4 linked regions of the Homo sapiens genome follow. The protein of the gene in region 1 interacts with the protein of each later gene in a pairwise test. Each region holds a gene or a part of one and is shown in the gene's direction. Other genes may lie near its edges.

Region 1 (7,525 bases):
GTGCCCGGGGGTCCCAGGCAGTTTCCGCAACACATAGAGGGCGCGGGCCTGGGAACCACGGCTGGTCTAGGTGACGGATTGTGCTCAGGATCCCCGCGGAAACGCTGTGCATCCGCCGCGCTCCAGCAGGAGGAGATGGCCCTCTAGAGTCTGGAGTCCGGGGAGACGAGGACCGCTCCTCTGACCACCCGTCACTGACACCACCAGCACCAGGGGGGCAGCGCAGCCCCCAACAGCACCCCTAACCCGCCGCCGGCAGTGTAGCCCCCAGATAGCGCCTCCAACACCTCACCCCCAACCACCGGCAGTGTAGCATCCAATGGCGACCCCAACCTGCCCTTGCTTCGGACACTGCAGCACCCAATGGCGCCCAGAACCCGCCCCCTGCCGCGGGCAGTGCAGCCCGGGATAGCGCCCCCAATCCGCTCCCTGCCGTACACAGTGTAGCCACGAATAGTGCCCCCAACCAGACCCCTGCTGGGGGCAGTAATGCCCTGATATGGCACCCAAACCGCCCCCCAACTGCGGGAAGTGCAACCCCGGATAGTGCCCCAACCTGCTCCCCACTGGGAGCAGCAACCCAGGGAGACGCCCCAACTCACTCCCTGCCTCCGGCAGTACAGCCACAGATAGCGCACCCAACCCACCCCCTGCGCGGGCAAGGTAGCCCCCGATAGCGCACCCAACCCGCCCCGCCGGAACCAATGTGGCCCCAGGTAGCACACCCACCAGCTCCCTGGCACGCAGTACAGACCTCTGATAGCACCCAACCCGCCCCCTCCCAAAACGGGCAGTGGATACGTCCCTCAATAGCGCCCCCAACCAGCCTCCCACCCCCTCTACACGGGCAGTCTGGCCCCCAGTAGCACTCCCAATAAATCCTGCTATCTCTGTCTCAGTGTAGGCCCCAGAAAGCGCCCTCAACACCCCCCTCCCTGCTGCCAACAGTGTAGCACCCTGTAATGAGCCTAACCCGTCCCCCACCACAGCACTGCAGCCCCAGATAGTGCTGCCAACCTGCTCCCTGCTGTGGGCAGTGCAGCTATGGATAATGCCCCCAGCCAGCTTCTAGACGCAGGCAATGATGCCCTGGATATAACACGTCCCGCCCACCGCAGGCAGAGTAGCACCCGATAGCGCCCCCAACCCGTGCCTGACAAGGGCAATGCAACACCCGATAGTTCTTCCAACTCGCCCGCCGGCCACGGCCACTGCATCCCCAGATAGTGCCCCCAGAACTCCCCACTGCCGCTAGCAGTACAGCTTGGGATAGTGCTCCAACCCACCCCCAGCCACGGGCAGCGCACACCCGATAGCACCCCCAACCCACTCCCCTCTGTGGGCAGTGAGGCCCCAGATACCACATCCAACCAGCCTCCTAACACGGGCAGTAACGCCCTGGATAGGGCCTCCAACCCACCCCACCACGCCACGCCACAGGCAGTACGGCCTGGGATGGCGAACTTTTCCCACCACCATTTTACCATTCTGGCTGCGCTCTAGTCTCCCTGGCCCGCACCAACGGCAGCAGCGAGGTGAGCCACGGCAGGCTCCAGCCTCCACTGTGCTAATGAAGTTGCTCCTCCTCCTTTTCCTCTAAGCTTCCAGACTCCAGTGTGCTCAGGAAGTGACTCGTTTTCTTTTTCCTCTAAGCCAGTACTAACCAGCTACACAAGCTGACGCAGGAGAGCTTGGAATGACAAAACTCCCCCCACTTGGCATCATTTATATATGAGAATTTATGCAAATGAAGTTCCTGGGCTACATGTTCTGATTGGATGAGGAAAACCTCTAGGCCTACTCTGATTGGACTTTGTTATCATGTTCTGATTGGTTGTCCTAAGACTTGCTCTCATCCAATCAGAACATGCAAATAAAGCCCAATCAGAGTAGATCTAGAGGTTTTTCTTCTCATCCAATCAGAATATGTAGTCCAAGAACCTCATTTGCATAACCTCGGTAAGGGGAAGTCTCAGTTCCAGGCTCTTCTAGGCTATGTTCTCTGTCTCCACACCTTCCTCTCAGACAGCAGCTGGAGCCCCAGAACCTGGGAGCCTCACAGAGAAAGTCCTGATGTGGGACCTGGTTTTCCACCCGAGACCCAGGATCCAATAAAGAAGTGTTTCCATAAATGATGCATCCTCCAAAGAAGGCCAGTGACTTTCTGTGCCAAGTACCTGACAGAATTGCCATTTCCTAGAGCTGCCAGGCAGCCCTAGGTGCACAGGTCACCTGTGCATGTGTCAGAGACCAAATCCCATCAATATTGAGGCCTTGGTTAAGACAGGTACTTGCTTTTAGTCGTGAAAAGATGCCTGGCTTTGGCAGGAGAATCGCTTGAACCTGGGAGGCAGAGGTTGCAGTGAGCCAAGATTGTGCCACTACACTCCAGCCTGGTGACACAGCGAGACTTTGTCTCAAAAAAAAAAAAAAAAAAAGAAAGAAAAGAAAAGATGGCTGGCTTCAACACTGAGAAAACCAACTCTCCTTGAGCAAATGCTTTGCATATTCTCATAGAAATAAGGGAACACCTATTACCCTCCTTGCACTGCTTCCTGCACAGCTGGGATACTACCTTTCACAAGCATCCTGAGCCACCTGCTGGCCTTTTGTGTGTGTTTCCTTCCTGGCTTCCTCCCATTTTTTTTTCCATCTCTGAACCTGCTGTAAGGTGAAGAATTGAGGCGGGCCCCAAATGTAAGACCTCATGAATTTGACGATGCAACAGTGTCCTGGACAGCCTGGCTCTCAGGGCTGGGGAGCTGGGCAGAGAGAAAAGAGGGCATTCCAGGGGCCAGGGAGCTCCAGGCCCAGAGTAGGATTTCAAGGCTAAAGAAACAGAGGCTGTGGGTGGGTAGAGGGTCTTGACTAGGGTAGGGACAGAGGGTGCGTCTTAAGGCTCAGCTAGGGACAGCTTCATCCAGGAAGTAGTCAGCAATTGGGGGCCAAGCTGCAAGGAGGAAGAGGTGGGGAGAGAGAATGGAGAGAGAGGTGTTCAGTGATCAAATGCCTGGCCTGGCCTGTTTCCTCAGGAGACACCCCTGGGAGTCTGGGAGCCTCTCCCCCGGGCTGCTATCCAACAGGGTGCAAGTAATCCCCCCTTACACACACTAAGAACCCAGGGTGAGTGTCAAATTATATGTTAGCTAAGAAATGAAGAGAGGGAGCAGGATTTCTGGTTGACGGTGAGGATATTTATTAAGGGTTTACTGGTACAAGGAGAGGGGCTGGATGATTTGGGGTGGGAGGGGATCTCTGTTCTGGGATCCTGCAGCTCCAGGCCCCCATGGGTGGGGTGAGGGTCAGGGACCTAAGAACATTCTTCAGGGGCCACTGTCTTCTCCACAGTGCTCTCTTGTGTGTGACCTTACAGCTGTAGCTGCTGCAGGACCTCCACTGGTCGGGTGTCAGGCTCAGGTCGCTTCTGGCTGTGTGCTTGTTGCTCTGTTTGGAGGTCTTGGTGACTTCCGTACCCTGGGTGACAGGGGTGCTGTTTGCCTTCCAGGCCACCGTCACAGCTCCCGGGTAGAAGCCACTCATGAGACACAGCAGTGTGGCCTTTTGGCTTGGAGCTCCTCAGAGGAGGACGGGAACAGAGTGACCAAGGGGGTGGCCTTGGGCTGGCCTGTGGGTGGGCGAGCGGCAGGAGGTCAGCATCCTGTTGTGTACCTGGGAGCCCCCTGACCTCAGTGTATGAAGAGGGGTCAGGCCCCCTCAGTGCCAGTGTAGGACCCCTCAGACATGGTCCACAGTGTCTCAGAAGGGTGTGACATGAGGTTCCTAAAACAACTCTCTGTCATTCAGGGAACCTCCGAGCCTGTCCCCTGCCCACCAGTGGTGGCAGTTAATTTGGTATTCATTTCCAAGGCTGGAGAAGGATGTAATTTTTTTTCTTTTCTTTTCTTTTGGTGAGACAGGGTCTTACTGTGTTGTCCAGGTTGGAGTGACCTGGCGTGGTCTCTGCTCACTGCTAATTTTTGTATTGTTTGTAGAGATGAGGTCTTCCTGTGTTGTCCAGACTCGTCTCAAATTCCTGGGCTCAAGGGATCTTCCTGCCTTGGCCTCGCAAAGTGCTGGGATTACAGATGTGAGCTACTGCATCCAGCCCCCTTTTTTTTTTTTGAGATGGTGTCTCACTCTGTTGCCCAGGCCGGAGTGCAATGGCACAATCTTGGCTCAGTGCAACTTCTGCCTCCCAGGTTCAAGCGATTCTCCTGCCAAAGCCTCCCAAGTATCTGGGATTACAGGCGTGTGCCACCACGCCTGGCTAATTCTTTTGTATTTTCAGTAGAGATGGGGTTTCACCCATCAGGCTGGTCTCGAACTTTTGATGACCTCAGATGATCCACCCACCTTGGCCTCCCGAAGTGCTGGGATTACAGGCATGAGCCATCGTGCCCAGCCTCTCAGCTCCTAATTCTTATGTTCATCAATCAGTCTCTTGCTGGGGTTCCCCTAGGAGGTGGTGAAATGACCCCAGCTCGCTGTTCCTCACATGGGTGCTGCCACGTCACTGGCTCAGGCTCAGCTGCTGGGTCACCAGGAGAATGGACCCTTCCTCCACCTCAGCTCAGAGCACAGTGATGATTCGTGACTTTCCCAATAGAACTTCAAATCTCTGAGGACGGGGGGTGGGGGGATGTGCTTGAGTGTTTGTACTCATGGTCTTGTTCTCGGAGTGACAAAGCTGGAACACAATACCTCTATGCATGAAAAGGTTGTCACTTGTCACAACTAACAGGCTTTCACCTCAAGGAAATTTTCTTCCCTTGTGTACTTTTCCCCTGGCAGTGGACATGGCTGCACTCTTCCAAGAAGCAAGCAGCTGTCCCGTCTGCTCAGACTATCTGGAAAAACCAATGTCCCTGGAGTGTGGATGCACCGTCTGCCTCAAGTGCATCAATTCGCTGCAGAAGGAGCCCCATGGGGAGGATCTGCTTTGCTGTTGCTGTTCCATGGTCTCTCAGAGGAACAAAATCAGGCCCAATCGGCAGCTAGAGAGGCTGGTTTCCCACATCAAGGAACTGGAGCCCAAGCTGAAGAAGATTCTACAGATGAACCCAAGGATGCGGAAGTTCCAAGGTAAGGAATCTGTATACCCTGCCCCCTTCCCAAGACCAGACCAGGAAAAATCATCTGTGCAGTTGGCCCCTCATTCCACATGGGGATTAGCTGCTGTCTGGCACCTAAAATTGAGATGCTTCATCATCACATTCTCAGCCCTGACAACACATAGAATCACCTGGTGATGTCAAAAACAAAAACAAACAAAAACCCGATGTCTATGTCATGGGTTAGACAAGGGATTCTCTAAACTTAGTGTGCTCAGATTACCTGGGGATCTTGTTAAAATGCAGATGCTGAACTGGGAAGTCTCAGGATTGATCCCGCTGGCTTGGGGACTTTGCTGAGTAGCAAAAACATAGAGCAACTGAATTTGAATTTCTCTCTAGCAAAGGTTCCCATGAATCTGACATTAAGATGGGCCTGGTATTTCTAATGCACAGTGAATATTGGCACCCATTGTACCAAACAACCTCACCCCAGGGTTGAGAAGAGTTGGGAATGGAGCACCTATGGTGTTTGTTTCTGTGAGTGGGGAGAGTTGCAGATATTGGTCTCCTCATCCATGCGCCATGGGCTCCAACAGTGGTCCTGGCTACAGAAAATACTATCACTCTCCATAACTCTGGGGAAAAGGGACATTTAAATGAAAAGGTTATGGTCAGCCTGGGCAAAGAATTACACCTATAAATGGTGGTGGGCCCCTATAATGTCCCTGACACTGGTAGCTTCTGCCCTGACACCCATGATCTCTACTCATCCATCTACCCATACCTGACTGTCTCTCTGCTGAACTATGGAGGACAGAGATTCACCCTGTCCAAGTCATGTTTGGAACCCTCTTCCTCCTTCCTTGTCCATGTCCATTCCCTAATTCACCATTAAATAGCAATCAATCCCTAGTCTTGACTAGGGTAGTCTTACTGTGATCTATAAAATCTATATTAGTGATCATATCAGTTTTTTGACTTGAAGGATAATATATTTTGTAGATTTTTTTTTTTCAGAATGTTCTGGACAATTAATTTTCTCTAGGCCAGATCACACTGCCTCCTCCATGAGAATTGGCGGCTTCACCTGTCAGTCACATACCCAATGCCTTAAATTATTGACCTTTGTATTTTCTGCCCTTATTCTCTACAATCAGTCAGTTATGACAGACAACTTTCAAATACCTTTCTCTTGGCTCCAAAATTTACCATTGTTTTGCTTAAGGTCTCACCTTCCATGTAGGATAGAAAACATTCTTTCATCTAAAAGGTCCCCCTCCTCCACCTGGCCTTAGAGCCTCCTAATGTCCAGGACCAGCATCTCTGTCATCACATTGTCAGCTGCAGAGATACCCTATCTGCTGTCAGAACTGTGCACAATTAATTTGTTTACAAACATGGAAAACAAAAGCCTGGAATCATGCTCTATATACTGAATTGGAGCAATAAAATGTGGAAGCAGAAACATATTTAATATTGACCACTTGCATTGTCTTAATTATCATTTATTTGTTCACACATCAAGGTGGTAGAAAGGGGGGCATGGTGTCTGCCTTCAGAGACCCTCCACTCTAAATGAAGAAAAGTTCAGTGAAGCAAACACGTGACGTAAAGTAAAATAAGAATTGCTACTGTGAATAAGAGTCACGTATTGCCACAAAGCATACCTATGAAAATTTGAAATAGGGAAGTTTCCTCATGAAAAGTTTTGATTTTGGAGGAAGAAACAGAATTAAAGAAACTAAAGTCAGGAGATATTTGGGCCTTTGAAGTAGAAGAGAGGCATGGGGTTGGCTTCTGTCCACTTGCTGAGCAACTTGTTTTCCTTTTCACAGTGGATATGACCTTGGATGCCGACACAGCCAACAACTTCCTCCTCATTTCTGACGACCTCAGGAGCGTCCGAAGTGGGCTCATCACACAGAATCGGCAAGACCTTGCCGAGAGATTTGACGTGTCCGTTTGCATCCTGGGCTCCCCTCGCTTTACCTGTGGCCGCCACTACTGGGAGGTGGACGTGGGAACAAGCACAGAATGGGACCTGGGAGTCTGCAGAGAATCTGTTCACTGCAAAGGGAAGATCCAGCTGACCACAGAGCTTGGATTCTGGACTGTGAGTTTGAGGGATGGAAGCCGCCTCTCTGCCAGCACGGTGCCGCTGACTTTCCTCTTAGTAGACCGCAAGTTACAGCGAGTGGGGATTTTTCTGGATATGGGCATGCAGAACGTTTCCTTTTTTGATGCTGAAAGTGGTTCCCATGTCTATACATTCAGGAGCGTCTCTGCTGAGGAGCCACTGCGCCCATTTTTGGCTCCTTCAATTCCACCTAATGGTGATCAAGGTGTCTTGAGCATCTGTCCTTTGATGAACTCAGGCACTACTGATGCTCCAGTCCGTCCTGGGGAGGCCAAATAAGCCGCCACTGCAAAAAAAAACAGGGTCAGAAAATTACTTGGGTGGGTAGACTTAG
Region 2 (7,346 bases), on another chromosome or scaffold:
GGGACACAATTATTTGTCTTGTTGGGTGACCAGAATTGTAGAAATACTAAAAATCTAGGTTCATGCATTTATTTAATGTACTAACATGTCAATGAGAAAAGCTGTTGTAGACCTTAATACATGTTTGTGCAATAAATAAATGACTGAAAAAACTCTAGATGAATTCTCTGGATGTCTGAGCAGAGAGAATTCCTAGGAAATTGTAAGTAGTCTCTAAGGATTACCCTCTTCCTGATCTTTACTCCTATGGCTGTCCCAAATTCTTGCTCAGTTACTAGTTGTCATGTAAATAATCAGGCATATGGTCGTTTCTGTGCCTACTAGAAAGCAGGGTACAGTATTGTCACAGAGTAGCAAGAGTCTGATTGTTAAATTGAGACATTATAAATTCATCTAGTCATGATTCCCTCTCTCACAAAATAGATGAGTGAGACTAGAGGCAACACTATAATATCTTACATGGGTGACTTAATGTACCATCTAAGACCCAGAGTATAAGAAAACTGGGCATAGGAAAATATTTACTTGATTCAATTGAATGAATCAATAAAAAGAACACTCCCTCACCAAAAACAAAATGCATTTGTCTTATGTACTTGTGTCTTCTTTACAGCAAGGACTTCAAGACTCAAGTTCAAAATGCCAGGCATTGGAAGAAAACAATCTCTCTCTTCGACATACACTATCAGACATGGAATACAGACTAAAAGAACTGGAATATTGTAAACGTAATTTAGAGCAAGAGAATCAAAACCTTAGAATGCAGGTATTAAAACTTCCTTTTAAATATACAGTATTACCTTAGTTACATCATTGTAATCCTAGCATTTAGAAAACATATGGACTGCTTTCCCTCACATACTGTTAGATCTTAATCACTGACATTTGAGCTTTATAATGCAGTTCCTGAAAATCACTTTCATTATTTCAATGTCTTATTTAATCATGTGGTTTTCATCTAATAACAATCCTTGTAACATAACATGTATTTTCTTCAAAACAATCCAATTACAGATAGTTATTTTGCCTTCTGTAGGTTTCTGAGACTTGCACAGGCCCAATGTTGCAGGCTAAAATGGATGAGATTGGCAACCACTACACGGAGATGGTAAAAAACTTGAGAATGGAGAAAGATAGAGAGATCTGCAGACTGAGGGTATGTTGATCCTACATTGCATAAATACACAGGTCAGCACAAACTTTCTAGCAAGATAATGATGGCTTCAAGTTTAAAGCTACCAGAAAAAATTAGCTGAAGGTAGAGTTTTAGAAATATGTCATGTATTCATTTGTTTTAAATACATTACTGTATCTAAAATATAACTGTTAAATGATTTTCTAATTTAGCTTAATTTCTTCTAGGAAAGTAAAAGAAGATATTCATTTCAGTGGTTTGGTTTTGGTTTTTATTAATTTATTTTTTGGGATAGATGGAGGACTCTTCATGATCTTGCCTAAAGCATGCTTATGTAGGCAAAAGCAATATATGAAATTACTCAACAGAGCCATAGTTAGATTTGTAAAAATTCTCACTTAATTTCGAGGGATGATGAATAGCAAGGACTTTGTCAAGCATGAGGAGGAAAACAGTGTTAAGTTTTAGGTACCTATAGTTGACATCAAAATTAAGGTGATATTTATAAGTATATATTGCCTTAACTTGTAATTCTAGGTTGAATTTACTTAATCTAACCCTTATTTTACTGATTCCTAAAGGTAGTAAAATATACTTAAATATTTTAATAAACAAAATAATCACAAATTTGTCTCTCCAAACATCACTGTATAATTTTTACCAAAAATCAAAATGAAACAAAATATAATTTGTTTTCCAAACCTACCAATACTTCTAGCAGATTTCCTCCACTGATTTCTTTTCCATTCCAACATTACTAACAGCACTTCTACCTAAGCTACACACATATGAGGTAAAGAGGGAAATGGACAAGATTTGTAGTCAGAAGACCTGTTTTGGAGTTGCAGCTATGTTACTGCGTGACTGTGTCATTTAACCTCTCTGGAGCCCATTATCTGTTTTGTAAATGAAGATTATAATAATGCTTATTTCATGGGACTGCTGTGAGAACTGAGATAATTCATGCAGGAGGAATATTTTGTGAACTGAAAATCAGAATATAATAGTAGTAATTTGTTATTGCTATTTCCTTAATTATTATTTCAAGGACTCTAAAGTGCCTGTTTTCTTAGCTTTACTTTAAATTTTGTGGCCTAAGACTGTTACGTAGATAATGTTTAGTCCTACATAGCAAAGACACCTTAAAAAAAGGAGAAATTTGTAATTGGCATTTCATTTCATATTACATACTCATGAAATTCTTCGAACGTTTATGACTATTGGTATTTTACTTTCATTTCATAACTGTGTGAGTTTGTGTCACTTAACCTCCCTGGAACTCAGTTACACATTTTCTATATGAAGATTATAATAATATTTATTTCTTTTTAAATCCTTAGTCCCAATTAAACCAGTACCATAAAGATGTTTCAAAGAGAGAAGGAAGTTGTAGTGACTTCCAATTTAAGCTTCATGAACTGACAAGCTTGCTGGAAGAGAAGGATTCCCTCATAAAGCGTCAGTCAGAGGTATAAAAGGAAGGGGTGGGGATGGAGAAAAGTAATACAACTTAGTACTGTAGTACTGTAGGATAAATACTTCCCATGGACTAGAAAAGGACACATATCCAAGAGTCACTTTATTTAATGAAATAAAATGTAGGTGCAAGTGAGGAAGTAGAATATACATATTTCAGGAGACACAATTCAAATGAAAGTTACAATTGAAGCAAAAAATAAGTGCTGTTATACATTTAATATTTTTAAGACATTGATTTTATATTTCATTAGCAGTGAAATTCCCAGTAGACTGTGACCTCCTTACTACATTATGAGCTGCTTCATTAAAGCATGTGTTATATTCCTCCTTGTATCTGTAGCATGTAGCCCATGACCTGGCATTCAATAGGTACTGAAGGAATTGTCAAAAATTATGGGTAATATTGTATTGCTGTTATGGAGCAAATGGTGCTTGTAGTAACATTCATTGATAAACTCTCTCTTAAGAAACTATATCTGCTTATATATTGAAGTTTCAATACTTTTCTTCTATGGATATACTTTTCAGGCTTTTCAGAGCAAAAACTTTCACATCCTCATCCTGAGAACCACGCCCATTCAATCTCAAGTTATCCTCCAAATTTAGATATCCTGTATCAGTTGCAGGTTCCTGCACCGGCATATAATATAACTTATTAGGTACTGTGAAGCAACACTAGGTGATATTCAACAAGTGGGATTAGAACATTATTACGTCAAGGCTAAAAAGGGGTAAAAGGGAGGGGGTATAATCATTGTTAGTAACCCTTCTAAATGATTAAATATATTTATTATCTCATGTTTCTACTTTCCATCAAATGATTATATTATCTTTTATTTGTAAGGAACTCTCCAAGTTGCGGCAAGAAATATATTCCTCTCATAACCAACCCTCCACTGGTGGAAGGACTACTATTACCACTAAAAAGTAATGTATTTTTAAATGAAATTTGAATATAAAAATTATGATCATATAATCCAAGTTATTTCATGTTTAATTGGTATATACAAGCTAGACAGAGTTTGGTGTTTTCTGCTGGCCAGTTATTCTACTGAAGAATGAATATTCACAAAAAGACATCACTATTGTGGTCAAAAAAATCCTGAAGCACATCTTTCCTGAATTTACAATATATTAATTACCTTGGAAGTGAAAAACAAATAATTGTTTTTTTAACCAACCACATTAGTTAGGACTCTTTCTGTTTCATGTGACAAGAGACCCAATGTAAACTGGGACTTTTTAAATTCACTTAAATGGGGTTACTTGGTATCCAGATGGATTTGTGTGTTCAAAATATGCCTTTATAAATATGTCTTTCTTTATATCTTGGCTCTGCTCTTTCCTGTGTAGACATCTTAATCAGGTAAGGTCTACCCTCACGGTAGCAATATGACCACAAATTACATTCCAGCCATTTAGCAAAACCAAATATAAAGTAATTATGAATAGCTTCAGCAGAAGTCTATTTTGGATATTTCATATAAATGAAATAATACAACATATAGTCTTTTGTGTCTGGATTTTTCATTTTGCATAATGTTTGCAGGATGCAAGCATGATTTAGCATGAGTCAAGACTTCATTCCTTTTGGTTGCTAAATAATATCCAGTTGTATGGATATACATTTTATTTATTGATTAATCAGTTGGACATTTGGGTTGTTTTCAATTTTTGGCTATTGTGAATAATGCTGCTGTGAACGTCTGTGTACAAGTGTGTAAGGTACATGTATTCATTTCTTTTGAGTATATACCTAGGAGTGGAATTGATAGGTCACATGATAACTCTATGCTTAAGGAATTGCCATACTGTTTTCTAAAGCAAAAGCACCATCATACATTCCTAGTAGTGTATGACGGTTCCACTTTCTCCCCATCCTCGTTGCCATTTGTTATTGTTCATCTCTTGGATTATGGCCATCCTAGGTGGTGGAAAGTGGTATCCAATTGGAGTTTTGATTTGTATTCCCTAATAACTAATGTTTTTTAGCAATTTTTATGTGCTTATTGGCCATTTATACATCTTGTTTGAAGAAATGTCCATTCAATTTTTTTCCATTTTTTAAGTGAGTTGTCTTTTTATAGTTGAATTGCAAGAGATTTTCACATGTTCACAAGTCCCTTATCAGAGACAAGATTTGCAAATATTTTCATCAATTCCATGGGTTGTCTTTTCACTATCTTGAGAGTATAATATGCAGCATAAGTATTTAATATAGAAAAAAATCCAATTCATCTATATTTTTTCTTGCTTGTGCTTTTGGTATTATATACAAGAAACTGTTGACTAACCCAAGATCATAAATTTTACATTCATAAGTATTTTGTCTTATATTAATATAAACTGTCTTCTGGTTACTAATTGTATGAAATATCTTTTTCTGTCCTTTCATTTTTGACCTATTTGTGTATTTGATTCTAAACTGTGACTCTTGTAAACCACACATGGTTGTATCTTTTTATACATTCTGCCAATCTCTGCTTTTAGCTGGAATATTTAATGCACTTACATTTAATGTAATTCATAAGTTAGAATTTACATTAGCTATTTTGCTATTTGTTTCTATGTCTTATGTTTTTTGTTCTTCTGTTCCTCCATTCCTGCCTTCTTCTGTGTAAAATATTTTCTACAGTAACATTTTAATTCCATTTTAGTTACTTTTACTATATTTTCTGAGTTTTTCCCCTTAGGTTTCCCCCAGAAATTTAATTAATATTTACCTGTATAGTTACCTTTACTGGTGATCTTTATTTCTTCAAATGGATTTGGGATGCTGTATAGAGTCCTTAAATTTCAGCCTGAAGGACTCCTTTAGTATTTCTTGTAGGACTCCCTTTAGTATTTCTTGTAGAACAGGTTTTGCAGTGACAAATTCTTTGGGTTTTTGCTTGTATGGGAATATATTGCTTTTCCTTCATTTTTGAAGAATGGTTTTGCTGGATAAAATAATTCTCAGCTGACAGTGTTTTTTTGTTACTTGGAATATGTCATCCCATTGCCTTCTGGCCTCTATAATTTCTGATGAGAAATCAGTTGATAATTTTTAATTGAGGATCCCCCTGACATGTTTCTTTTTTACTGCTTTCAAGATTATTTTTTTCTATGGCCCTTGACTGTTTGATTATTATGTGTCAAGGTTTGGATCTCTTATTTTTCACTATTTGGCATTTGCTGAGCTTCTTTGATGTGCAGATTGATATTTTTAATCAAATCTGGGAAGTTTTCAGACATTTCTTCAGCTATCATTCCTGCCACTTTCCTCCCTCTCCTTGTGGAGTCCCCATAAACAGAACAGAATGTTCTGAGGCTCTGTTTATTTTTCTTCATTCTTTTTTCTTTCTGTTCCTCAGAATAGATAAACTCAACGGACCTTCTTTGCAATTTGTTGATTCTTTCTTCCATTTGCTTACATCGGCTGTTGAGAAATTTAAATCTAGTTATTATCTTTTTTACCTCAGAATTACTGTAGTTTCTCTTAAAAGTAATTTCTCTTTCTTTAATAATGTTCTTTATTCCATAAGCCACAACTCTCATCCTTTCCTTTAGTTCTTTAGTTCTTTGAGCATACTTAAAATAGCCAATTTAAAGGCTATGTAAATGCAACATCTGGCTTCTTAATGGATAGTTTCAAGTGATTTTTTCCATGATAGGCAATATTTTCTTGTTTCTTTGCATGTCTTATAATTTTTTATTGAAAACGTGACATTGAAAATAATATAATGTGGTAACTCTGGAAATTAGATACTCCCTCCTGCCAAGGTGTTCATTGTTGCTATTATTTGCTGTTGATGTTATTGTCTTTTGCTTAGTGGCTTTTCTGATTTAATTCTATAAAGTCTGTATTCTTTTCATATGTGGTCACTGAAGTCTCTGCTCATTTATCTTAGTGGTCAGTTAACATTTAAACAGAGGTTTCGTTACAAACATGAAACTAGTAAGTCTCCTAGTTTTCACTGAGAGGCTCTTTGTCTGTGTTTGGACACCTCTTCAATGTTCTGGTAGGCAATTTATAGCTCGTCCTTAGCCCCCAGTTCCTGCTTACACAGAGTTTTAAGGTTAGCCAGTACTGAGGGCTCAGGATTTTCTCAGGTCTTTCCTTCACATGCGTACAGCCTTGGGCATGTACAAAGCCCTACACATGCCTGTGGCTTTCTAGATTCCCAGGAACATATAACAAATTTTCAAAGCCCACTATGGACAATTTATTTCTCAGTTTTTCCTTTTATCATTTTTGGTCAATTTCTTGTCTGCCTGAACTATTATAGCCACCTCAGGTAGTTGTGATATTAAACAATTTCCACACATTATTTTCGACAAATGTTCCCAGGAAAAAGGATTTGCAAATTGGTTGAGCTACGAGTCAAGTTTTAAAAGGCATCCTTGCAAGTGGAGTTTTCCACAGAATCAACAGACAAATCAAACAATGACAATTATAACGACAATGTGGCTTTGAAGGAGCTCTAACCTTGTTTTGTCTTCTAGTTGCTGCCAGGCTCCTGGGTTTTACCCAGATTGTTTTAAGGGTCGGGCGCGGTGGCTCACGCCTGTAATCCCAGCACTTTGGGAGGCCGAGGTGGATGGATCACGAGGTCAGGAGATTGAGACCATCCTGGCTAACATGGTGAAACCCCGTCTCTACTAAAAATACAAAAAAAAAATTAGCCAGGCGTGGTGGCGGGCACCTGTAGTCCCAGCTACTCGGGAGGCTGAGGTAGGAGAATGGTGTGAA
Region 3 (8,344 bases), on another chromosome or scaffold:
CCCTTCCAGTCCTACAAAATGTTCTTTCAGGCAGGTTAAGTGATTTGGGAATTCTCTGCATTCTCTGTGGTTGGGGGCTGCCTCAGCTAGTTGGGTTGGGGCAGTGAGGTAGACAGGAGGCATTTACTAGAGAAATGCCAGATCTGTTTACTCTTTCAAGGAATGTGTGCTTGTGTGTGTCTTATTCCTACGGTATATCCTAGCTCAGGGCTGGGCACACAGGAAGCATCCCGAGAGTACTTATTAGATTGAATCTTATTCACATCTAACTGCTACCTTCTACACTAGCCAAGAGGTCCTTCCTTCTTGGCCTGGGGAGGTATTGTCCTGGCCTCTCCACCTCCTGGCTCTTACTTGGTCAGCGATGACTGTCCGGTGCTGATACATTCCAGGGTTAAGCTGCCAACGACAGAACTGGCCTCTCCAGCCACGGGTAATAGTGCCTCCCCCGATGCCACCCAAGGGACAACCTAGAGAAATCAGGGTGGTTAGTGGGGTATTGGGAGAGGAAAATAAGCCCATTTCTAACTTTCTAGACTATAAAGCCTGGTTCCTCTGAAAACCTAGGGGATGGAACAGTGCAATTTGCATAAGCTGGAAGTCTCTTCCTAACTGTGGTAGACCTGGAGGCTAGGCCTTCTCTGAGCAGAGCAGAGATGGGGTGGGGCTCACCATAAATCTGTCTTAGGGGTACAGAATTGATCATGTCGATGAAAGGTGTCTTCTTTTCCACATGGGTCTTCCGGTACCACCACTGCAGGTACCTGAGGAGCAAGAGGCAATGTGAGTGGAAGGGGGCAGGTGGGCAGCTGTTCACAGGCTGAGTCACCTGCCTCTCTCTGTGACCTCCCATTAAATGTCCCAAGGACATCTGCTTTCAAACCTTTCTTCCTCTTGATTTCTATACAGTTCAAGGTCCCTTCATCTTCCCAGTCACCCCAGCTGAAGTGAAGGAGTGGCTTTGTTTCTCTCCTTTGTTCTCCTCAGAAGGGGCTTTCTGATCTCTCCTTACCTCTCTAGCACCACCACCACTGCTTTATTTCCAACATCAGGAGCTTCTGTCTGACGTGCTGAAAGGACCATTTATGGTTTCCTGGCCTACAGCCTCCGCCCCCAATCCCCTACCTCCAAAACAGGCATAGGCTGCTGGGAATAACTTTCTTATCTTTATTTTTATTATTTATTATTTTTTTTTTGAGACAGAGTTTCGTTCCTTGTTGTCCAGGCTGGAGTGCAGTGGCTCGGTCTTGGCTCACTGCAAACTCCGCCTCCCAAGTTCAAGAAATTCTTCTGCCTCAGCCTCCCAAGTAGCTGGGATTACAGGTGCCCGCCACCATGCCTGGCACATTTTTTTGTGTTTTTAGTAGAGATGGGGTTTCACCATGTTAGCCAGGCTGGTCTTGAACTCCTGACCTCAGGTGATCCGCCCGCCTCGGCCTCCCAAAGTGCTGGGATTAGAGGCGTGAGCTACCGCTTCTGGCCTTTCTTCTTTTTAAAATGATCATTTTTCTTTCTAATTATGAAAGGTGAAAGGGGGAAAAAAATAATCTCACCCATAGACAATCAGTGTTTATATTTATTTCTGGACATTTCCTCTCAAGCCTTTTTTTTTTTTTTTTTTAAATTCAACATTTAAACTGTGAAGCTTTCTGATTTTGCTCTTGGTAAAGCCTTCAAAAAATCCCAACATTTTCCTGGGCTTGGTACAGCCCTATATCCAAGAGGCAAATGATTGAGGCTGTTTTCAATAGGCAAACGATTCTGTTTTCAAGGCTCTGACATCTGTCCCAGCCTATCTTCTAATCTTATTTCCTACAAATTCTCATTCCAGATGGGTCCTCACTAAGTAGCCCCTGCCCTGCCAGACTCTTTCCCATTTCCACTCTCCTGCCTACTGCCACATTATGCCTACTGTTCAGTCACACCACTTCTAACCAAATAATTGGGTAAGTAACCCCTAAGTCCCAGTTTCCTCATCTACAAAATGGGGATACCACCTGCTCTAGCTATCTAATGAAATGGTTGAAAGATCAAATGACATAATAGATAAGAAAGCCATAAAGTACAGGTATGATTATTACTCATATATACAAACTGTTATCTCAATTCCTAATCAGACATTGCCTTGTTATTTCAATGTTCCTCATGTGAGGCTGACATACTTTTAAGTTCCTTGGGGAAAGGGACAATGACAAAGACTAGCTGAATATTACCCTCAGGTCCAAGCACAGGGTAGGACATATGGTCTGCAGTCAATGCATATTTGCCAATTTTACAGATGAATGAACATACAAATGATGGGGCACAAGAGAGATAACAGACTGGAGCAGAGGAGAAGAAATGTGATTAATGAATAGGGACAGCGGCCAGGCACGGTGGCTCACACCTGTAATCCCAGCACTTTGAGAGGCCGAGGTGGGCGGATCACGTGAGGTCAGGAGTTCAAGACCAGCCTGGCCAATGTGGTGAAACCCCGTCTCTACTAAAAATACAAAAACATTAGCCAGCTGTGGTGGCAGGCACCTGCAATCCCAGCTACTCAGGAGGCTGAGGCAGGAGAATCGCTTGAACCCAGGAGACGGAGGTTGCACTGAGCTGAGATTGCACCATTGTACTCCAGCCTGGGTGACAAGAGCAAGACTGTCTCAAAAAAAAAATAATAATAAAATAAAAAGGGACAGCACATTCTAGGGGTGGAAAGAAGAGGGAAGACAAAGGATGGGATGACAGGAAGGCAGAGAATCCTCTCTGCCAGCTTAGAGAAAACCGGACTTTGAAACTAGAGACCAGAAAGGACTGGTAGAGGGAGGGTGTGGCCGAGGATTAGGGCAACCAGGGAGAGTAACTGCAATCTATGAGGACAGACAGAACAAAGGACTATCTGGCATGGAACAAGCACTCAATAAATATTTATTGAATGAGTGGACTCTGGCTGGAAGGGAGAACAATTGAAATTGAGTTCTTACGAAGGTAAGACCCAGAGAATTCTGTCTTGCTAGAGCTCCTGGTCAGAGTGCCCACAGTTCAGCTCCATCTTAGGAGCTCTCTTACTCCCTTAATATGGTAGCTGGCCATTCCTGACCTATTTGGCCTTCTCCACAATTTCAACCTCAACTCAAGAGTTATCACTTAGAATTCTTGTCTCACCTGTGCTTTCTCCTCATAGGAACTCATCCTATTCCAAAAGCCTTGTATCAGTACCCCCCACTCTATCCTGGAATGGGGAGCCAGGGTCCAGGGGGTTGAGCACAGCTTCAGGCCTCTATGACTCAGTTCATATTTAAGGGCTAAGAGGCTAGGATGCCCATCTTTTCTTGATCTCATTGTTCCTACCACATGCAACTCAGTGTACTTCTCTATGTACACTAGATCCTATTTTGATGCAAAAACTTTTGGGGTCAAACTTGGACTGAATTGATTCCAGAAGCAGCCTGGAGGGATGATTCTTCTCTGCTACAGGCTACCCACAGGCACCAACAAAGCCAGATGTGCAGGCAGCATCAGGCCCTTCCCACTCCCCAGGGCTAGGGTTAGATAACTGATCTCCCCATCACAGCCCCACAGCACTGACTGGGGAAATGAAGGGTCTCCTACTCTAGAAACTGTAAGGGCAGGGTTTCCCAAGCTTTATGCCTCCCTCCACAGTTCTGTGTGTATTGTGTAGACTGAGTCAGGATGACCTCAGGGTGATGCTTTCTGTCCTCACATCCACCTGTTCCTGTTAATGGGTCTGGCTCCTCATCACTAGTCTTTGAACTCAGTGGGGATCTAGATGGGTTCTACATCTATGGCAGTGCCTCTCTGATAAATGACTTAATATCAAGAGCTCTCTATCCCAGAACAGAATGACAGCACCTTCTCATCACTTCAGAGGTGAGGGCAGGGAGGCTCTTCTTACCTACTCCCTGGAGCTAAAGCTTGAAGAAAGAAGCAGTAGTGTTGGGACTCTAACAGTGTGTCTAATGAGGTACAGAGAATGCCCCAGCTGCTTGTGGGAAATAAGGGGTTGAGACCCCCCCACCCCCAAATAAAACAACATTGTGTTAGTATCACAGCAGCCAGATTATCCTTTCCTACCTTGCCACAAAGTATAGCTAATCCCAAAGGGAAGTCATTGGAAACCAGTATGTGAGAAGAGCCTGAATGGGAAAGGCTGATTGCATGACCAAATGTTCCTACCCTTTCCTTCTGAAAAGACAAAACACTGGGAGGGAAGGGTGTTGCAAAGAGATGTGACCTGGTCTCACGGTCCAAAACCACAGGCCTAAAATATGCCAGGGATAGGGACCGCTTCACTCAGACAAGAAGCCCAACTGCTTTCTTGCCCTTTCCCACCTCTGCTAGAAGTTTTGAGCTGGAACAAAGTGAAGCCAAAGGCATTCTAGGCAATGGGGTCTACTCACCTCAAGCCCATGCCTATATGCTTTATCATGTTGCTTAGGGAGACGTTGTTAGCTTGAAAGGGTTTCCTCTTCTCTGTAAACTCATGAGCCAGACAGATGCGCCAGCCAAAGGGAGGCACCTGGTAGCCCATAGCTTTACCCTCATAGGAAACCATCAGCTGCCCAGAGTCCTCCGGATTGCAGCAGTCCGTCTCTTTTGGGGGTCGGCTGTCTTCGGGACTCTTACAGTCTGTAACCTGCACATCCTTGGTGCCGCCAGTCTCTTCAGGGCAATAAACTTGTGGATCCTCTTTGGCACAGCTTATCTGCTCCGAGGCTGGGACGCCGGTTCCCATGTTCCCTGGATCCTGGGTCCCCATGACCTCGATGGCGCCAAGTCCCGAGCCCTCGGATACTAAGTATCTCGCCAGCCTATTCCAGATGCGGGCGCCGGTCGTTGTTAGGTATCGTCCCGGAGGGCCGGGCGTTGGGGAAAGCTTAAATGAGCTGGTGTTTCAGTGGAGCCGGGGAGCTCTTGCTTCAGTGGGGGCGGCGACAGCAAAGAAGCCGCCTTGGGCTCTCCTTCGGTTGTCTCTGTAGGTCCTGGACGGGAAGGGTCGGGCCTCGTCGTCATTGAGCCGACGATTAGCTCGCCCGGCCAAAGGGCGACTGGGCCCGCAGAGAGGGGAGGAGCCGCGGGGCCAGCCCACCAGGCACCGCCCCGGGACGGGCCCGCAAGGCACCGCCCCCGGGACCTCGGCCCGGCCCCTGGGCCACGGCACCGGGTCCCCCAGGATTGGGCGCCAGGTCCCGCCGGCCGGCTCCGGGGCAGCGCCCGCGCCCAGGTGCCAGCCCGTGGGAAGGTGACCCTGGGCGCCGGGATGACCCGAGCCCTTTCCGGTCTGGCCTGCCGGGCGCTTCCGGCCGGAAGGGACTCCGCGGAGGGTGGGGGACCGAAGGGAAGTCCCGCCTCTACCGCCCAGCGGACGCCGCCGCCGCCGCCGCCGCCGCGTACCTAGCCAGGTCCCTGAGGGGCGGGCAGATGAGGCCTAGGGGTGCCGATCCCTAGTGTCGACTATGCGAGGTGACTAGCGGCGGTGATCTTGGGCTGGGACGTGGAACTTTGAGGAAAGGGGGAGCGGAGGCCAGTTTGGGAACTCCGCGGGGGTGCCCAGGGAGAAGAACCCGTCGCACAGGGGCTGGGGTCTAGGGCCCAGAGCGATGTCCTCCCCCTGGGCAGTACTGAGTCTTCAGTCGCCTCCCTCCCACCCGCCTACCCCTCCTATATCCAGGAGCTCCCTCGGGCACCACGGTGCTGACCACCCCTGTCCTCAGCCCTCAGCCCTAGGTGCTCACCGCAACGCCCCTCCCTGTCAAGGTGCTGACCTCCGCCCCGCCTTGTTTCCTTCTAGATCTGATTCCGGAGCTGCCATGATTGAAGTGGTAGCAGAGCTCAGCCGGGGTCCTGTATTTTTGGCTGGGGAGGCGCTGGAGTGTGTAGTGACCGTCACCAACCCCCTTCCGCCCACGGCCACTTCTGCATCCAGGTGGGGATGCTGGCACTGAAGGTGGTGGCCCTTCTGGGAAGAAGCCAGATTATCTCTGGGGCTGAGGCAGAGCTCAGGTTGTCCTGTAGCGACACCACCTCCTCTTGCTCACTGTGCTGTCATTGTAGGAGAGGGCTCTTTAACAGAAGATGTGGATGACATAGCTGTACGCTTTCCTTCCCCTCCCCCGTTCCCCTTTTTACGCACAGTCTGCTACTCTTTATTTAATGGTTTCTCTTTGGGATTGTGGATTTCCTGATCACTAGGACAGCCATCTAACCTTGTTGGTTAAGATGGTGTGATAGGGAGCTTGGGAAAGCATTTGTGAGGTCAGGAACTACCTCTGATGCCTCCTTTTCCTTTTCCCACAGTGAGGCCCTGGCCTGGGCCAGTGCCCAAATCCACTGCCAGTTCCATGCCAGTGAGAGTCGAGTAGCACTGCCTCCTCCTGACTCTAGTCAGCCAGATGTCCAGCCCGACAGCCAGACTGTCTTTCTGCCACACCGAGGTTAGAGAGGGGCATTTGCCTGGGAGAGGGGGGGTGCGGAGGGTGTGTGTGGAGGCATTGTCACCCATGGGTGAAGTTGTTAATTGTTCTTGTTCTTATAGTCCCTGTCATGCTGGGGATGTTGGGGAGCATGACTATTGCTTTAGGGGTAGAAGACTATTCCCATTTCACAGCAGGGACGGAGGGCCTGGCAGCCTTTCACTATCTCCACTTGCCGTGCTAGTCTTGTTCAGTACTGGACAATGGGTCATTAAATTAGTCATTTTTACCTTTTTCAGGTGAGAGGGGCCAGTGTATCCTTTCTACTCCACCGAAAATTCTATTCTGTGACCTGAGGCTTGATCCTGGAGAGTCCAAATCATGTGAGTGATTGTCCCCATCCCTGAATTGCCTTCTAAGTCTCCTGGAGGGAGGACTCCTCTGGTGCCTCTGGCTGTCCTGACAACTACTTCCCAACCAGACTCCTACAGTGAAGTGCTGCCCATAGAGGGACCACCCTCCTTTCGGGGTCAGTCAGTCAAGTACGTCTACAAACTGACCATTGGCTGCCAGCGTGTCAACTCCCCTATCACTTTACTCAGAGTCCCTCTGAGGGTTCTTGTGCTGACTGGTAAGCAAGGGCTCCTGGAGGGAAGGGCTGGGGAAGGGCGATGCCAAAGCAGAAATTGTCTTAGAGGGCTTGCAAGAGGGACTGCAGGGAAACTTCCTGGTCTCAGTGACAGTGCTAGGGAGTTGGGAAGGGAGGGAGGGTTCTGGAGATAGAGATGTAAACCTCAGCCCTGGCACCCCTTACCTTTAGCCATCTCATGTTAGAATCTAAAACCCTAACCTCTACTCTCATCTCCGTTCCCTCTCAGCATTACCTCTCCACTCATTCTTTCTCTAGGCCTTCAGGATGTCCGGTTTCCCCAGGATGAGGCTGTAGCCCCATCCAGTCCATTCTTGGAGGAGGATGAAGGTGGGAAGAAAGATTCATGGCTAGCTGAGCTGGCTGGGGAACGCCTAATGGCTGCCACATCCTGCCGCAGCCTCCGTGAGAATTCTTTCAGAATTGTCCTACCCCATCCTTCCCCTCATTGTTTTCCCATCTCAGAGACAGTCTCCTAACCACCACACACTTCTGTGGATCCACTGATACCTGACACCTCCAATTTTAAAGAAAAGCCCCATCTTTTGGCCTGTGGTGCCCAGTCCTAGACGTTATCCAGTATGTAGACTCCAGGCTTATAGTGTCCTATTCTCCCCAGATCTATACAATATCAGTGATGGCCGAGGGAAAGTTGGGACGTTTGGCATCTTCAAATCTGTGTACAGACTTGGCGAGGACGTGGTGGGGACCTTAAACTTAGGGGAAGGAACCGTAGCTTGTTTGCAGGTAAGAAGGGAGCAGAGCTTCTTACCTGCTGGGGTGCTGGGGTTGAAGGGCTAGGGTGGAAGGCCTGTATAAAGAGGGGTGGCATGTAGAAGGGGATAGTGGGGTCATCCAGGGTCCCTTTGTAAAACAGCTTGAGGTTGGGCTGTCCTCTCACCTACAGACAGCACTTCCTGTTAGCACACACCTGTCTCTTGCTCCCAGTTTTCAGTCAGCTTACAGACCGAGGAGCGTGTACAGCCTGAGTACCAGCGGCGACGTGGGGCAGGGGGTGTCCCCTCTGTGTCACATGTGACTCACGCCCGGCACCAGGAATCCTGCCTACATACAACTAGAACCAGCTTCTCCCTCCCAATCCCTCTCAGCTCCACCCCAGGCTTCTGTACAGCCATTGGTGAGACCCTCACTGTTACTGGAGAAGGGAGAGGGGGACAGTAAAATGCTGTGCTAAGGGAGGGTGTAATGGATCCTGATTCCTTATACACACTCCCAGACATACCCACGTCTAGCCTCTGACCCGGAACAGTTTCTCAGA
Region 4 (7,506 bases), on another chromosome or scaffold:
GAGCTGAGATTACGCCATTGCACTCTAGCCTAGGAGACAAGAATGAAACTCTGTCTCAAAAAAAAAAGTGTACAATTTACTGTTTTGTTTTGTTTTTATTTTTTTTGAGACAGTGTCTCACTCTTGCCCAGCCTGGAATGCAGTGGCACGATCTCAGCTCATGGGTTCCAGTGATTCTCCCTCCTCAGCCTCCCAAGTAGCTGGGACTACAGGTGCACACCACCACGTACGGCTAATTTTTGTATTTTTTAGTAGAGACGGGGTTTCACCATATTGGCCAGGCTGGTCTCGAACTCCTGACCTTGTGATCCACCCGCCTCGGCCTCCCAGAGTGCTGGGATTACAGGTGTGAGCCACCGCACCCAGCAATTTAATGTCTTTTAGTATAGTACTTACAGAGTTGTGCAACCATTATTATAATGTAATTTTAGAACATTCTCACCATCCTAAAAAGAAACTTTATACCCTAGTCCAAGCCACAACTGTCTTTCGTTCGGACTGTTACAGTAGCCTCCCGTGTGGTTTCCATTTCCACCCTTGCCCCCTACAGTCTGTTCTTAACACAGAAACCAAAATGATCTATTTAAAAACCTACTGAAAGGCCGGGCGCAGTGGCTCATGCCTGTAATCCCAGCCCTTTGGGAGGCCAAAGCGGGTGGATCACTTGAGGTCAGCAGTTCGAGAACAGCCTGGCCAACATGGCGAAACCCCGTCTCTACTAAAAATACAAAAATTAGCCAGGCACGGTAGCGCACACCTGTAGTCCCAGCTACTAAGGGAGGCTGAGGCAGGTGAATCACTTGAACCTAGGGGGCGGAGGTTGCAGTGAGCCAAGATCGCGCCACTGCACTCCAGCCTGGGCAACAGAGCGAGACTCTGTCTCAAAAAAAAAAAAAAAAAAAAAAAAAAAAACCTACTGAAGATTCAAGTGATCTGGCCTCCTTACTTCTCCAATCTCATCTCTTCAAATTCTTCCCTTGGCTCAATGCATTCTAGCCACACTGACCTTTCTTTTCTTCCTTCCTTCCTTCTTTCCTTTCCTTCATTTATGTCCTTCCCTCCTTCCTCCTTTCCTTCTTTCTTTCATGGGGTCTCACTCTGTTGCCCAGGCTGAAATGCAGTGGCACGATCATAGCTCATTGCATCCTCAAACTCCTGGGCTCTAAGGATCCTCCTGCCTCAGCCTCCCAAGTAGCTGGGACTACAGATGTGAACTACCATGCCTGGCTTTTTTTACTGTCGTGTGTTTATTATTTTAGAGATGGGGGGGTGGGTCTCGCTATGTTGCCTGGGCTGGTCTCGAACTACTGGCCTCAAGCTCGATCTTCCCATCTCAGCCTCCTGAGTCACTGGGATTACAGGTGGAAGCCACTGCACCTGGCTTCTTGCTGTTTCCTGAATATACCAAGCATGCTTCCACTCAGGGCCTTTGCCCTTGCTGTTCTCTCTGCCTAGAACACATTTCCCCCAGATGTCCACCTGACTCACTTCCTTCCAAGTGATTAAGATGATCAGTCAGATGGGGGAACCATCCTACAGTAGAGAAATGAAGCCTGATATTTTTTTTTCCTCTTTGAGGTTTTATACTGGGTAATTGACAGAAACTTTTTATTTTTAAACATTTAGAGTTCCGGACTCTTAGAGTCTAACTACTTACCATGTACTAGGCACAATTGCTAATTGAATGCATTATATCAATTTAATTCCTGCAACAACCTAATGTAAGTACTATTCTTTTTTTTTTCTTTTTTTTTGTTCGTTTGTTTGTTGGAGATGGAGTTTCACTCTTGTTGCCCAGGCTGGAGTGCAGTGGCGCGATCTTGGCTCACTGCAACCTCCGCCTCCTGGGTTCAAGTGATTCTCCTGCCTCAGTCTCCCAAGTGGCTGGGACTATAGGCGCCTGCCACCATACCCGGCTAATTTTTGAATTTTTGAGTAGAGATGGGGTTTCACCATTTTGGCCAGGCTGGTCTCGAACTCCTGACCTCAGGTGATTCGCCCACTTCGGCCTCCCAAAGTGCTGGGATTATAGGTGTGAGCCACTGCGCCTGGCCGGTTAGTACTATTCCTACATCCAATTTACAGATGAGAAAACGGAAGCTTGTAAAGAGATTAAAACTTGCCCAAGAAAATAGAGTAATAAGTTACTGCAGAGCTTGAATTTGAACCCAGGCCTCTCTAACTCCAAAGCTCAAGTTCATAATTATTTGACCTTGGAGCAAAATTTAAATAAATTTCATAAAAAATCCTTTCATCCTCAATTATGTAAATTGAAAAATATTGCAGATAGAAAGAGAAACCCAGAACTTTGAGTCCCCCATTATCTTTCAATTTCACTCTAAGAAGTGCATCTGTCATTGGGTTTCTCAATATCAGCTCTGCTGATGTTTTGGGCTGGATAATTGTTTGCTTGTATGGGGGAGGGGAGATTGTACTGTGCACTGTAGGATGTTTAGCCGCATCCCTGGCCTCTGCCCACTAGATGCCAGCATCACTGCCCCCCTCCTCAAGTTATGACAACCAGAAACATTTCTGGTTGACGCTGCCAAATGTTCACAGAAAAGAACCACTATATTAGATGATGATACTTTATTTCTGTCTTCTAAGTATGTGCAAACCCTGGTGTTTGTGGAAAGGTGATTTATTTAAAATAAGTTTACTTGGTTTAGTCAAAATAAGTTTACTTAGAAATAAATCTTGTAGAGTACAGCCCAGCATTAGCCAGCTGTATTAGTTTGCTAGGACTGTCATAACAAAGTACCACGTACTGAGTGGCTTAAACAACAGAAATTTATTTTCTCATTGTTCTGGAGACTGAAAGTCTAAAATCAAGCGTCAACAGGGTTGGCCTCTCTCCTGGGCTTATAGATGGCTACCTTCTTGTTCACGTGGTGTTCTCCCTCTATGCCTGTGGCCTAATAATATCTTCTTGTAAGGACACCAGTCAGATAAGGGTCCACACTAATGACCTCATTTCAATTTAATCACGTCTTTGAAGAACTTATGTCCAAATACAGTCACATTGAGTTACTGGGGATTAGAACGTGAACATACGAATTTTGGGGGGGACACAATTCAGCCCATTAACATTGAGCTTAAGTCTTTTCTCCCCTCCCTCCCTTCCTTTCTGTGTGTATTGAACACCTATTATGTGCCAGACATTCAGCTAAGTGGGGGTAATGGTAAGCAACAAACATGGTCTCTGCCCGGTAAGGTTTACAGTGAGGTAGGACAGACAGACTTAAAGAGTAATAACAAGTGCCATGCAAATATTATGCTTTGGTAATGGATGCCAGGAAAGCCTTGCCCTTCCCATCAGGCTCCCAACCCGGCTGGGCGAGTGAAAGGACTGCGTTATGAGCTAACCGGCTGGGCACGGTGGCTGACGCCTGTAATCCCAGCACTTTGGGAGGCCGAGGTGGGCGCGAGTTGAGGTCACGAGTTCGAGACCAGCCTGGCCAACATGGTGAAACCCCGTCTCAACTAAAAGTACTAAAATTACCTGGGCATGGTGGCACATGCCTGTAATCCCAGCTACTCGGGAGGCTGAGGCAGGAGAATCGCTTGAGCCCGGGAGGCGGAGGTTGTAGTGAGCCGTGATCGCGCCACTGCACTCCAGCCTGGGCGATAGAGCAAGACTCCATCTTAATAAAAAAATTAAAATATTGGCCGGGCGCGGTGGCTCACGCCTGTAATCCCAGCACTTTGGGAGGCCGAGACGGATGGATCACGTGGTCAGGAGTTCAAGACCAGCCTAGCCAAGATGCTGAAACCCCGTCTCTACTAAAAACACAAAAATTAGACGGGCGTGGCGGCACGTGCCTGTAATCCCGGCTACTCCGGAGGCCGAGGCAGGAGAATCGCTTGAACCCGGGCGGCAGAGGTTGCAGTGAGCCGAGATCGCGCCACTGCACTCCAGCCTGGGCGACTCTAGAGCAAGACTCCGTCTCAAAAAATAAAATAAAAATAAAAATATACATATTTTTTAAAAACTGAGCTAACCACGAGGTTAACGAGTCAGCCACTTGTGAAACCGGGAGACGCGCGTTTGCTACAAAGCAGCAGAGGTCTGGTCTTAACCAGCAGCAAGCGCCACCTCAACCCGCCCTTTTCTATGACGCAGAGTCTCTCCCCCTCCCTCCCTGACTCCGCCTTTTCCCTGCTTGAGGCCCTGCCCCTCGCGTCCTCTCTGGCTTGCTGCGCACCCTCCCACAACGCGTCTCCCTCGGCTCTAACAATAGGAGTCAGTCGGCCACGCCTGCGTCATAAAGCCTGGGGGCGGGCCCAGCCGGCGACGGGAGGCGGGGAAAAGCGACGCAAAGAGTCGCGGCGCCATTTGCTGCCGCCGAGCGTGGACGCAGGCGGATCTCTGAAGAGCTGGGTCGCCAGCCTCTCCCGCGCACGTTGCCTGGCCTCCAGCACCTACTTGGTCCCGCGCGCTCCCTCGTGTCGCCCCTCGGAGCAGCAGCCGCCGCGGTCGCCGCTACCCGGAAAGAAGTCAGAGACGCCGCGAGGTCGCCGCCACCGCCATGCCCAAGAATAAAGGTAATGCCGCCCGGACCCCCGGACCACGGCTCTGCTCGGCCGGGTCTCCCAGGTCCTGCCCGTAGATTGCAGGTCACCCAGGCCGCAGTGACCCTTTTTCCTTCCCGCCCTGCCTGCCCGCGGCTGGGCGCCCCACACGCGACTCTGAGCTCGGGAGAGGAGCTGGGAAGTTAACTCCTGTTGCCCAGTTTGGTCACATTGGGGTGGAGCCGGCGCCATTTTTGTAGGGCCTCCTGCGGGAGAATGTGGGCTTTTGCTCCTGATTCGCGCCAGACTGACCGCTGCTCGGTGGGGACGGTGGCGGGAACCTTCCCCGGGGCGGCCTAGGTTTAGTAGATAGGCCCCTTTGGCCTTCCCGGGCATGAGGGGTTATAATCCCTGGAAGCCGTTCTGAACTTTCAGAGTGCTGTCTGCATTCGTGAGCACCAGGTACTCCTGCATGGGTTTCTTTATGGACAGTTCAGTATTGTTGAGGCTACTCGCTGTCCCTTGTGAACAGTGGGTGAAACCTTGATACATTTCTAAGGCTCACCTCTAGAGATTTACTCTCTCCATCCCTTTACAGGATATAGCTTATGTTTGTTTGCTGAAGACTTATTCCATATTGAGCCAAGTTTTCTACTTTTGCTTCAGATGATGCATATGTTGTGAGAATAAAGACCTAATTTAAGTGTCCTCCATTCTGAGGCTAAGCGTTCACAAATGATCAGACTTGAGGATAACTTTATTTGGGATTTCCAAAACGGAAGGCCTAATCTTAAAAAAAAAAAAACAAAAACAAAAAACAGAACACTCCTAAAGAAATTACTTTTATAGATTTACAGTGTTCCTGTCATTTTTAATAGCCGTATAACTTGAAGAAAATTGTGCAAGTAAATATAGGGAAAATACTGTATTTTCCTACAGGAGAGGAGCATACTTCATAGTCCGTAAGTAGTCTCCTTTGATTATTCATTCTAGAGGAAACCCTCCCCTGACACAGGCCTACTTCTGCTCTCTTTTCTACTTGACAGCTGGCTCCAGGGATTCTACCACATTTCCTCTTTGTAGCTGTCACTTATTACTTTATCCCTTAGGGTACTTGGTCGAGGTGTTCTGTGCACAAGTTGGTGCAGTCACTGCTCATTATTTTGGAAAAGATGGAGTTATAAACAAAAAATTTTAAAGTCTTACAGTTTTCTTCTGTATAATCCTTTATTCTCTCTGAGGTGGTAAGGGGATCACTTCCATCTTATTCTCACCTTTATTTCTAGTAATAAGATTTCCAATTCTTCCACCAGGCTGTAAGCTCTACAAGGCAGGAATAGTATCTGTCTTAATCTCATTGGATTGCCAGCACTTGACAATTAGTAGATGCTTAATAAATATTTGTTGGTTTAAGTCACCTACCTCCTGTCGACTCCACCCTTAGTGAATAATAGGTTCTGCTTTGGTTCCAAGGGGATAGGACTTCTACACTAAATCACATCTAGTTCCCTAGCCTCATGTCTTAAGAAAGAGCCTCTCTGGGAATTTCTCCAAAACAACTCTGGTTTAAAGAATGTTGATGTCACTTTAATTGTTGTACACTCAGACCTAGTCTCATTCATTCAACAGAGAATTTAAAGAACATCCCATTACATGGCAATAAAATACAAAGGGGAGTGATCCGGGTATGGTTAATTCTGGTAAATTGACAAGTAATTAGTCTTTTCTTAAATAACATTTGAGGCATACAAAAAATACAGCTAACATGATATACCTGGGAACCCATTACTCTGAATTTAAGAATTACAGCGCAGATTGAGGTAAAGCCCTAATCACCTTTTACTCTCTTTTTGGAGGTAATCACCAGGCTGAGTTTGGTGTTTATCATTCCTGTACTGTCTGAAACCAATCAGTTCTTAGTTATCTTACTTAGAGGAATGGTACTTTTCATGACCTAATTTAAGTGTCCTCCATTTTTTTTTGCTGCTTCCAAGCTCTTCCCATGAGTCTCTTAGGGTCATTACCACTTACAGCCTTTTTCCTGCCTTTTGGAAATGGCTGCCAATGTGGTTTCCTTTCTGGAATGGGAGCAAAATGCTGTGGAGAGGTAAGCTTATGTGGGGGCTAGGGGCAAAAAAAACATTGTGACTTTGGTCACCCCAGCTTACTGACTGTAATCAGTGAACTGATTTACTCACTGAAGCTAAGCGACTTACTTAACTTCTCTGAGCTTCAGGGAACTCATGGGTAAACTGGGAATAAATGAATGTTATGACCTCATGGGGTGATTGTGACAAGTAAATGGGCAGAATTATTGCATAGTGGTTAAGAGCATGGTCACTGGGGTCATATAATAGAAACAGGGATGTTGAGTAGGGACCAGCATTATAAAAGAAAGTAAATTGGGTACCGAACAGATCTTCTTTATTTTTTAAGAGACAGTGTCTCGCTATGTTGCCCAGGCTAGCCTGGAACCTCCTGGGCTTGCTCAAGTGATCCTCCCACCTGAGCCTCCTGAGTAGCTGAGACCCTAGGCGCACACCACTGCACCCAGTGAGATTTCAATATTTATGGTACTCTGCTACCAAAAGTTTGAAAACCACAGTTCTCTGTCCAGACACTGTCTTCACTTAATTTTGAAAGTATCGGGTTCCTTGCATAGGGCCTGGCTTTAGAAGACACCCAAGATTTCCGCTTAGAAGAATATGTATAGAATTGCATTTTTATTTCAAAAGGATGGGTGCTAAAGTGAAATGTTTTTCTATATTTTTTAACATAATATCTGCTATTTATGTGTATTTTATGTCAGAAAAATCCCCAAAGGAAATTCCAAGAAGGGTAGGGAGGTGATAATGTGTTAATGTTGGGATTGGAGATTGTAAATTTAATATGATTGTGTAGCTAAAATAGATGAATTTTTTAATTTAAGTGATCTTTTAAAAAATGGTTTTATAAGCCTTAATTTCATTTTATTTCATACTGTTTTACAGATAA

Evidence for each region.
Region 2: the proteins of RFPL3 (region 1) and POF1B interact in binary tests that used the Homo sapiens proteins (3 or more experiments, as listed by UniProt).
Region 3: the proteins of RFPL3 (region 1) and RGP1 interact in binary tests that used the Homo sapiens proteins (3 or more experiments, as listed by UniProt).
Region 4: the proteins of RFPL3 (region 1) and EIF1AX interact in binary tests that used the Homo sapiens proteins (3 or more experiments, as listed by UniProt).

What each region holds. Positions count from the first base shown.
Region 1 is NC_000022.11:32,353,363-32,360,887, forward strand, and holds the start of RFPL3 (ret finger protein-like 3), read left to right. Parts: upstream 1-4,504; 5' UTR 4,505-4,709; coding exon 4,710-5,082; intron 5,083-6,543; exon of another isoform or gene 6,544-6,889; coding exon 6,890-7,470; 3' UTR 7,471-7,525.
Region 2 is NC_000023.11:85,299,601-85,306,946, reverse strand, and holds part of POF1B (protein POF1B), read left to right. Parts: intron 1-613; coding exon 614-766; intron 767-1,036; coding exon 1,037-1,156; intron 1,157-2,475; coding exon 2,476-2,604; intron 2,605-3,458; coding exon 3,459-3,541; intron 3,542-7,346. UniProt on the Homo sapiens protein: Plays a key role in the organization of epithelial monolayers by regulating the actin cytoskeleton. May be involved in ovary development.
Region 3 is NC_000009.12:35,743,943-35,752,286, forward strand, and holds the start of RGP1 (RAB6A-GEF complex partner protein 2), read left to right. Parts: upstream 1-5,344; 5' UTR 5,345-5,466; intron 5,467-5,794; 5' UTR 5,795-5,813; coding exon 5,814-5,929; intron 5,930-6,300; coding exon 6,301-6,437; intron 6,438-6,715; coding exon 6,716-6,799; intron 6,800-6,897; coding exon 6,898-7,047; intron 7,048-7,323; coding exon 7,324-7,470; intron 7,471-7,684; coding exon 7,685-7,812; intron 7,813-8,013; coding exon 8,014-8,203; intron 8,204-8,344. Other genes in the region: GBA2 (non-lysosomal glucosylceramidase), read right to left, coding at 355-470, 673-764, 4,404-4,762. UniProt on the Homo sapiens protein: The RIC1-RGP1 complex acts as a guanine nucleotide exchange factor (GEF), which activates RAB6A by exchanging bound GDP for free GTP and may thereby required for efficient fusion of endosome-derived vesicles with the Golgi compartment.
Region 4 is NC_000023.11:20,138,664-20,146,169, reverse strand, and holds the start of EIF1AX (eukaryotic translation initiation factor 1A, X-chromosomal), read left to right. Parts: upstream 1-4,331; 5' UTR 4,332-4,529; coding exon 4,530-4,545; intron 4,546-5,725; exon of another isoform or gene 5,726-5,835; intron 5,836-5,934; exon of another isoform or gene 5,935-6,202; intron 6,203-7,506. UniProt on the Homo sapiens protein: Component of the 43S pre-initiation complex (43S PIC), which binds to the mRNA cap-proximal region, scans mRNA 5'-untranslated region, and locates the initiation codon. This protein enhances formation of the cap-proximal complex.